Regions from separate parts of the Homo sapiens genome. Here region 1 is linked to region 2. The links come from fine-mapping of genetic effects on gene expression. A gene starts in region 2. The other region holds a variant in brackets. All regions are shown on one strand. Distances are from middle to middle.

Region 1 (4,386 bases), 43 kb before region 2:
AAGGGCTACAGCTCTTCTCTTTCTCTCTCCTCTCTTCTCTCTTTCTGTTGCCCACAGCGTGGCAAGCAGTGGGGGAGGGGAGGACGTGTTTCGGCTCTGTTTGTGTTTCAGCTCTTTCAGTCCCACCATTTGGCAGATCCCGAGTTCTTGTCCCACGTCCAGGAAGAATGAGGTATATGGACAACTGGAGGACGAGCAAGGTGAAGAGGTGCTTTATTGAGCAACACAACAGCCCTCAGGAGACCCCAAGCGGGTAGCTCCTTTCCGCAGCAGGTCGTCCCAGCATCTGTGCAGCCCTCAGCGGAGAGGAGACCCAGAGTGGATAGCTCCTATCTGCAGGCAGGTCATCCTGACGTCTCTGCAGCCCTCAGTGGAGAGGAGACCTGGAGTGGGAAGCTCCTATCCGCAGGCAGGTCATCCCATCAAGTATGGCTGAGTCCAGGGTTTCTACGGGCTTCAGCGGGCAGGAAGTGCATGCTGATTGGTCCATGGGCAGCCACAGGCAGCCCGGAAAAAGCATCGTAAGTTCTCATTCCAGTCCACAGAACTGGCAGCCTGGGCCCCAGGCTTCAGGCCATCCCTGGCTTGAAGGTGGGGCTTCACCAGGGACCCGCCCATTTCCGCCTAGGAGCCTGTCTGCCTCCTGCTGTCATCAACCTGCTGTCCACAGCGCCCAGGCTATTCACGAAGGGGCGCCTGCAGGCCTGAATGGAGCTGCTCTCAGCTCCGCCTTGGCGTCCCCTCCTGTGCTGCTGGACACCCAAAATCCAGAGGGGGCCAAGGCAGAAGGGGGCTGGCATGTCAGCACTGCCCCTAGCACACGCAAACCCAGCCAGGTCATGACAGTGCCCAGGCTTGGCCTCAACTTTGCTCCAAAATCAGAGCAGGCACCAGGAGCAAGGAGAGGCCAGGCAGTGGGAGCAGGCACTTCAAGCCTGCAGGGGCAGGGGAGGTTCCTGGGCCCCCAAAAGCACAGGGAAGCCCGGGTATGTAGCCACGGCTGCTCCCGCCCTGCCAACTTGGAAACGGGCAGGGCTTCCACCTACTCCCAGCTCCCAGTGGCTCCATGGAGCGTGCAGCACAGACCATGCCTCCCCGACTGCAGCCGGCATCATGGCAGCAGCCCATCCAGACAGGCCACCGCTGCCATCATTTAGATGTTGGCTTTTCAGCCCCCTGCAGGGATAGTTGCGTTTTTCTTAAGTAACACAATTTGTACAAATAAATTACTTTCTTGATACTGATGAAATTTTAGGAATCAGCCAGAAATTGGGGGTAGGGGAAACTCTATGATAAACTGTCATCTCTGCACAAGATACGGTTCAGAGAAAAATCTTCAGAACAGGTGGAAAACCAATGCCAGACAGAATGAGGACAGTCTGCTCTGCCCTACTGCCTCTCATAAGCCTGACTGAGATGTTCGTCTAAACAACTGCAACTGTGCCTTACTTTCTTTCCTCCGGCTCAACTCCGAGTGGCAATATGACAAGATCTACAAGAAACTGGCCTAATTCTTAGAAGCTGAAGGTGACACCCCATGAGTCATGGCCAACATGAAAAAATGTCAGAGTCGAAAGTGAAAGATGAGCACCACCTAGAAACTTCCTTTCATCACAAATGCAAATTAAAATGGAAGAAGGGTTCTATACATTTCACTCCGAGTTCTTTCAGTGATGATGATCAGAGCTTGTCTTCACTATTGTTCTTAATGATTCCTTCATAATATTCAGAGGTCAATACTCTCATCTCAGTGGTCTGAGTGAACTACTCAAAATGCCTAATCCATCCAATTAATGATTGTTTTCTAATTTGCACAGTACTCTTCTGTAAGTATCTGCTCAATTCTTCTAAGTGTAGAGAGACAAAATCCACTATGAGAAATATAATCAGCAATTTGGCATCTGGCAAGTCAATAATATCAGGCAGTCAAAAATATGAGTACTTACTGCTTACAAAGTACTGTATCATAATTTTTAAGTACAAACTGAACCTGGAGGACATTATGCTAAGTGAAATAAGCCAGACGAGAAAGACAAATACCACAAATGACCTCACTTATTTGTGGAATCTAAAAGAGTGGAACTCACAGAAGTACAGAATGGAATGGTGGTTACAAGAGATGGACAGAAGAGGGTGGAGAGCAAAAAGGGAGATGTCGAGTACAAAAATTCAGTTTTGAAAGGAGAAACAGGCTGGGCACAGTGGCTCACGCCTGTAATC[T/C]CAGCCTTTGGGAGGCTGAGGCGGGTGGATCACGAGGTCAAGAGATCGAGACCATCCTGGCCAACATGGTGAAACCCCATCTCTACTAAAAGTACAAAAAATAGCTGGGTGTGGTGGCGCATATCTGTAATCCCAGCTACTCGGGAGGCTGAGGCAGAAGAATCCCTTGAACCCAGGAGACAGAGGTTGCAGTGAGCTGAGATCGCACCACTGCACTCCAGCCTGGCAACAGAGTAAGACTCTGTCTCAACAAAAAAGAAAAAAAAAAAGAATGGAGAAATAAGCTTTAGTGATCTATTGCACAGAATGGTGACTATAATAAATAATAATGCAGCCAGGCACGGTGGCTCACACCTGTAATCCCAGCACTTTGGGACGCCAAGGCAGGCGGATCACAAGGTCAGGAGATTGAGAACATCCTGGCTAACACAGTGAAACCCTGTCTCTACTAAAAATACAAAAAATTAGCCAGGCGTGGTGGCGGGCACCTGTAGTCCCAGCTGCTGGGGAGGCTGAGGCAGGAGAATGGTGTGAACCCGGGAGGCAGAGCTTGCAGTGAGCCGAGATCGTGCCACTGCACTCCAGTCTGGGCGCCAGAGTGAGACTCCGTCTCCAAAAAAAAAAAAAACCAAAACAAAATAAATAATAATGCATTTTATATTTCAAAATTGCTAAAAGAGTAGATTTTAAATGTTTTCACCACAAAAAAATAAGTATATAAGGCAAGGAATTTGTTAATTAGCTTGATTTAATCATTCCACATGTAAACATATATCGAAGTATCACATTGTATCCCATAAATATAAACAACTATTATTTATCAATTTAAAAAATTAAAGGCCAGGCACAATGGCTCACGCCTGCAATCCCAGCACTTTGGGAGGCTGAGGTGGGCAGCTCACCTCAGGTCAGGAGTTTGAGACCAGCCTGTGCAACATGGTGAAACTCCATCTCTACAAAAATACAAAAATTAGCCAGACTTGGTGGTGCATTCCTGTAATCCCAGCTACTCAGGAGACTGAGGCGGGAGGATCACTTGAATCTGGGAGGCAAAGGTTGCAGTCAGCCGAGATCGCACCACTGCACTCCAGCCTGGGCAACAGAGTGAGACTCCGTCTCAAAAAATGAAAAAAAAAAAAAAATTAAGTACAAACTATTTTCTCAAGGAAGCTTCAATTAAGGCATGGAAAACACACACAGAGCTCCACCTCAAAAATGCTTATGATATAAAAATGCTCTACAGGATTCTAAAACCATGGGGTGAAAGTTTGCTGAGGAATAGGATATTTGCAGTTACGAAAAATTGACCAGGTGTAGTGGCACATGCCTGTAGTCCCAGCTACTCGGGAGGCCGAGGTGGGAGGACTACTTGAGAACAGCAAGTCAAGGCTGCACTGAGCCATGATCATGCCACTACACTCCAGCCTGGACAGCAAAGTGAGACCCTTTCTCAAAAAAAAAAAAGGCCACATGCAGTGGTTCATGCCTGTAATCCTGGCACTTTGAGAGGCCAAGGCAGGCGAATCACCTGAGGTCTGGAGTTCAAGACCAGCCTGGCCAACATGGTGAAACCCCGTTTCTACTAAAAATATAAAAATTAGCCAGGTGTGGTGGCGGGCACCTGTAATCCCAGCTACTTGGGAGGCTGAGGCAGGAGAATTGCTTAAACCCAGGAGGCAGAGGTTGCAGTGAGCCAAGATCATGCCATTGCACTCCAGCCTGGGTGACAAGAGTGAGACTCCATTTCAAAAAAATATATATATTTTTTTCTTTACCTGCTTACACTATTATGTGTTTATACTATTCCTTATCTGCTTACATACAGTTCTTCTATTTTCTAAAGATGACTTTTGGGTTTTACATTATATTCTACACTGTTCTTTAAACTGAAGTCTTTAGATCCTTCGGATTTAAAATAAAACACACCCACTGCTTTTTGGGTTTTAGTGTAAGACACTTCTTTATCTCATCCACTTCTCAGGAGATGGAAAACATCTGGGTCACAGATATTCCATAATGATAACCCTAAAAGAATTTAGAAATTATGCAAAGATTACTCCTCATGACTTTCCTCTAGAACTACTGCTGTTTAAACTTTTACTCTGGGCTGGGCGCGGTGGCTCATGCCTGTAATCCCAGCACTTTGGGAGACCAAGGTGGGTGGAT
Region 2 (4,386 bases):
AATCTTCCTGCCTTGGCATGCTAAAGTGTTGGGATTGTAGGCGTGAGCCACCACACCTGGCCCCAATGTCCTTTGTTTAAAGATGGAGAGGGGGCAAATGGGTAATACTGACTCTGTGAAGAGAATGAGTCATTTCCAGTTATCACCATGATTACCTTTTAATTTATCTTTAATGTTTTCTGATAAATGTTTTGTAAGCTGAGGCATTTCTTCTGGAGAATATTCAGCATTTGCCAGTTCCTCCTTGAGCACAGCATGGATACAGTCTTTAACCACAGAGGGCCTGAACCTGAATGGAACAATTTGTGAACATCCAGTCGGTGACTCCACAACCCCAGCTTACCTTCATACCGCAACTTCTCCCATCTTTTTGTCATTAGTACCACTTAATCCTTCTTTTTCATATTTTTTATTATAAAATATAAACAAATTAAGACAAATCATAGGCCACATGTGTATCTTCAACCTGGACCTGCACTGAACTTCAACACATTCCAACTCATGCTCCATATGAATGTTTATTAGGCAACTCAATACATCCAATAATGAGCTTCTCATACTCCCCTCTCCCCCAAAACAAAATATATACTTGTTGTTAATTTTGTTCTGCACGCTTTCACAAAATAAAATAAAATAAAATAAAATAAAAAAATACGGCTGAATGGCATTCTGGGCATTCAGAACCTTTTACCAAGATAACTGAGGGTATCTTTCTCTGTGTTCATTCTACCCAAGGGAAAAATCCTGTATGAAATTTGTATCACTTTTTCTGTGAGTTACCAAGAGAATAAAAATAAACAAAGAAATTTGTATCACATTATAATCAAAATTCCTGTTTTCCATATTTGCCAAGCAAATATGGGGTGTGTGTGTGTGTGTAAAGTTAGTGATCTTACAAACCTAGCTGAGTACCCTCTGCTCTGGCCCGTGAGCCTGACATTTTTTTCAGTGTGTGTGTGTGTGTGTTGTGTGGTGTGTGTGTGTGTTGTGTGGTGTGTGTGTGTGTGTGTAAAGTTAGTGATCTCACAAACCTAGCTGAGTACCCTCTGCTCTGGCCCGTGAGCCTGACATTTTTTTCAGTGTGTGTGTGTGTGTGTGTGTGTTGTGTGGTGTGTGTGTGGTGTGTGTGTGTGTGTGTGTGTGTGTAAAGTTAGTGATCTTACAAACCTGAGTACCCTCTGCTCTGGCCCGTGAGCCTGACATTTTTTTTCAGTGTGTGTGTGTGTGTGTGTGTGTGTGTTGTGTGTGTGTGTGTAAAGTTAGTGATCTTACAAACCTAGCTGAGTACCCTCTGCTCTGGCCCGTGAGCCTGACATTTTTTTTCAGTGTGTGTGTGTGTTGTGTGTGTGTGTGTGTGTAAAGTTAGTGATCTTACAAACCTAGCTGAGTACCCTCTGCTCTGGCCCGTGAGCCTGATATTTTTTTCAGTGTGTGTGTGTGTGTGTGTGTGTGTGTGTGTAAAGTTAGTGATCTCACAAACCTAGCTGAGTACCCTCTGCTCTGGCCCGTGAGCCTGATATTTTTTTCAGTGTGTGTGTGTGTGTGTGTGTGTGTGTGTAAAGTTAGTGATCTCACAAACCTAGCTGAGTACCCTCTGCTCTGGCCCGTGAGCCTTAATCCTAGCGAGGGCTCGCTGCGGTGGTCTAAGGGCCTCCAGATCCCACCCGGGTAGGACTTCGCACAGATGCAGCTCCCGCGCCGGGAGTGAGCCCATCCTGGCACCCGTGTGCACAGTCACCCTCGAATCACGGCTGAACGGCATCCGACGCGAGTGGCTTCCTGCCTCTATTCTACCCATCTCCTTACTCAGGACGCCATCGCGGGTTTCCCAGGGCCAACCATTCCCGCCGCGCCACCCTAAGACGCGCCCGGCGCCCAAACACTGAGGAAGCGGGTGGGGTCCCCTGCGGCCCCTGCAGCGGGAGGGGCGCCCGGACGTCACAGCAGGGCCGCCCGCCCGCCTCGCGGCCTCCCGCCTCCCGCCCCGCGGACCCCGCGCGTCCCCCGCGCTCCTTCCGTGGCCCAGGTCCCAGGCGAGCTCCGCCCCTCAGACCAGCGCGCTCGAGGTCGCCCCGCCACAGCCCGTCCTCTACCCGCCTCTGCTGGAAAACAGGCCGCAGAATATAGGTGTTCTCGGGCTCCCCTGCGTTCTTCTCAGCCTCAGGCACCCCGTCGCCCACCGAGAAGGACACTCCGATGGACGTGGCCATGCCGGGGCTTCTCGGTCCGGGCGTAGCTCGCGATGAAGGCCTAGCGGGTTGCGGTCGCGGCCGGCAGCAGGGAAAGCGTCTCCAGGGCAACAGGGCCGCCCTCCCGCCTCGCTGAAGCCCGCGAGCGCCCCGCACAGCCGCCCTCCCTGCCCGCGCCTGCGCACCGGCTGCTGGGCGGGAACTGGTCGCGTCCGGACGCGCGACAGCTTCCACCCGCCTCAGGCAGTATCAGCCGCGCCGCAGTCGGAGGAAATAGACGCGGGGCCTGAGGCTCCTGGACTTGAGGTATTAGGCTGGTGCAGAAGTAATTGCGGCGGCCGGGTGCGGGGGCTCAGGCCTGCAATCCCAGCACTTTGGGAGGCCGAGGCGGGCGGATCACCTGAGTCAGGAAGAGTTCAAGACCATCCTGGCCGACATGGTGAAACCCCATCTCTACTGAAAATACAAAAATTAGCCGGGCGTGGTGGCGCGTGCCTGTAACCCCAGCTGCTCTGGAGGCTGAGGCAGAATAATCTATTGAACCCAGGAGGCCGAGGTTGCAGTGAGCCGAGATCGCGCCACTGCACTCCAGCCTGGCGACAGAGCGAGACTGCGTCTCAAAAAAAGAAAAAAAAAAAAAAAGGAAGGAAGGAAAGAGACTTAGGCTGCATTCCCCGCTTTTAAAAATATATATTTATTTTTATTTTTTTAAACGAAGTCTCGCTCTGTCACTCAGGCTGGAGTGCAGAGGCGCGATCTCGGCTCACTGCAACCTCCACCTCCCAGGTTCAAGCAATTCTGCCTCAGCCTCCCAAGCAGCAGGGATTACAGGCGCGCCCCACCACGACCGGCTAATTTTTTTTGTATTTTTATTAGAGACGGGGTTTCACCATATTGGCCAGGCTGGTCTCCAACTCCTGACCTCAGGTGATCGCCCACCTCGGTCTCCCGAAGTGCTGGGATGACAGGCGTGAGCCATCGTACTCTGCCGCATTCCCTGCTTATAAGCACCAGTCCCTGGTCCTGTTTTAGAAGGCTGTTGTATCTTGGCCTCTGCTAGCTTCAAAAACTAAGGCCCGATGAGGTAGCTCGTGCCTGTAATCCCTGTTTACAGGAGAGGCTGAAAGGGCAGGGATTCCTTTTTTTTTTTTTCCCACTTGAGACAGGGTCTTGCTCTGTTTCTCAGGCTGGAGTGCAGTGGCACACTCACCGCTCACTTCAGCCTCGACCTCTTGGACTCAAGCAGTCCTCCCACCTCAGCCTCTGGAGTACCTGGAACTACAGGCGAATGCCACCGCGCGTGGCTAATCTTTTTAATTTTTGTAGAGATAGGATCTGGCTATGCTGCCCAGGCTACTATTGAACTCTTGGGCTCAAGTGATTATCCCACCTCAGCCTTCCGAAGTGCTGGGACTACAGGCATGAGCCATCACAGCCAGCTGGGATATTGTTTTTCGAATCGCTGTCATGTTCTGTACTATATGCAGTTCCTGAAAGAATGGAGGCAAGAAGGAGTCAGCTAACCACTGTGAACTGTCTTAGTGCCAAGGACCCACCCTTCTCTCCTTGGGGTCCTGCTGACCCATCAGAATAGGGCTGAGCCAGGATGGGGCTTGTGGAGATGATGTGTATGAGTGTGCATGCACTTGTGTGTGCATGCCTAACATCCAAAACTAGATATAAATTCTTTAAACTTTTCATTAGTTGGCCAGGCACGGTGACTCGCACCTGTGATCCCAGCACTTTGGGAGGCCGAGGCGGGCGGATCATGAGGTTAGGAGATCAAGACCATCCTGGCTAACATTGTGAAACCCGGTCTCTACTAAAAATACAAAAATTAGCTGGGTGTGGTGGCATGTGCCTGTAATCCCAGCTACTTGGGAGGCTGAGGCAGGAGAATTGCTTGAACCAGGGAGTCGGAGCTTGCAGTGAGCCGAGATCACACCACTGCACTCCAGCATGAGACTCTGTATCAAAAAAAAAAAAAAAAAAAAAAATTCTGCGTGAGTTGTGTGGAGGTGTCAGTACCTTTCCCCAGCAAGAGAAGCTTCTCCATATCAGGCATATCCTAGCCATGACCCTGAAACTAACCAGCCAAGAGGGAAATGTGAGACAAGCCCAGGCAAGCTTCCTGGATGTTGTATGCAGGAATAGGATGTGCTCTCTGGACTTGGAGACTTCCTGCCTGCTCAAGAGG

What was found. PIP is the estimated chance that this variant, and not a neighbour inherited with it, causes the effect. A credible set is the group of variants that fine-mapping cannot tell apart.
Region 1: its variant is the best candidate, but not a certain one, in a credible set for the expression of DYNLT2B in sigmoid colon (GTEx, PIP 0.54).

Annotation. Positions count from the first base shown.
Region 1 is chr3:196,273,264-196,277,649 of GRCh38, forward strand. All of the region lies in intron 1 of PCYT1A (phosphate cytidylyltransferase 1A, choline), which reads right to left. Among named protein-coding and RNA genes, the nearest start is that of PCYT1A, 12 kb to the right of the region's middle. RefSeq lists enhancers at 1-320, 1,489-1,698. The variant T/C (reference allele first, on the strand shown) is at 2,221.
Region 2 is chr3:196,315,943-196,320,328 of GRCh38, forward strand. DYNLT2B (dynein light chain Tctex-type 2B) reads right to left here and starts at 2,298. Exons shown (of 5, transcript NM_152773.5): 1 at 2,098-2,298; 2 at 156-289. The coding sequence starts at 2,210. TM4SF19-DYNLT2B (TM4SF19-DYNLT2B readthrough (NMD candidate)) reads right to left here. Exons shown (of 6, transcript NR_037950.1): 6 at 143-289. It overlaps TM4SF19-AS1 (TM4SF19 antisense RNA 1), which reads left to right and starts at 2,390. Exons shown (of 2, transcript NR_046724.1): 1 at 2,390-2,495. LOC107986031 (a long non-coding RNA gene) reads right to left here and starts at 1,649. Exons shown (of 2, transcript XR_001740547.2): 1 at 1,032-1,649; 2 at 500-900. RefSeq lists a silencer at 1,818-2,067 and an enhancer at 2,128-2,227.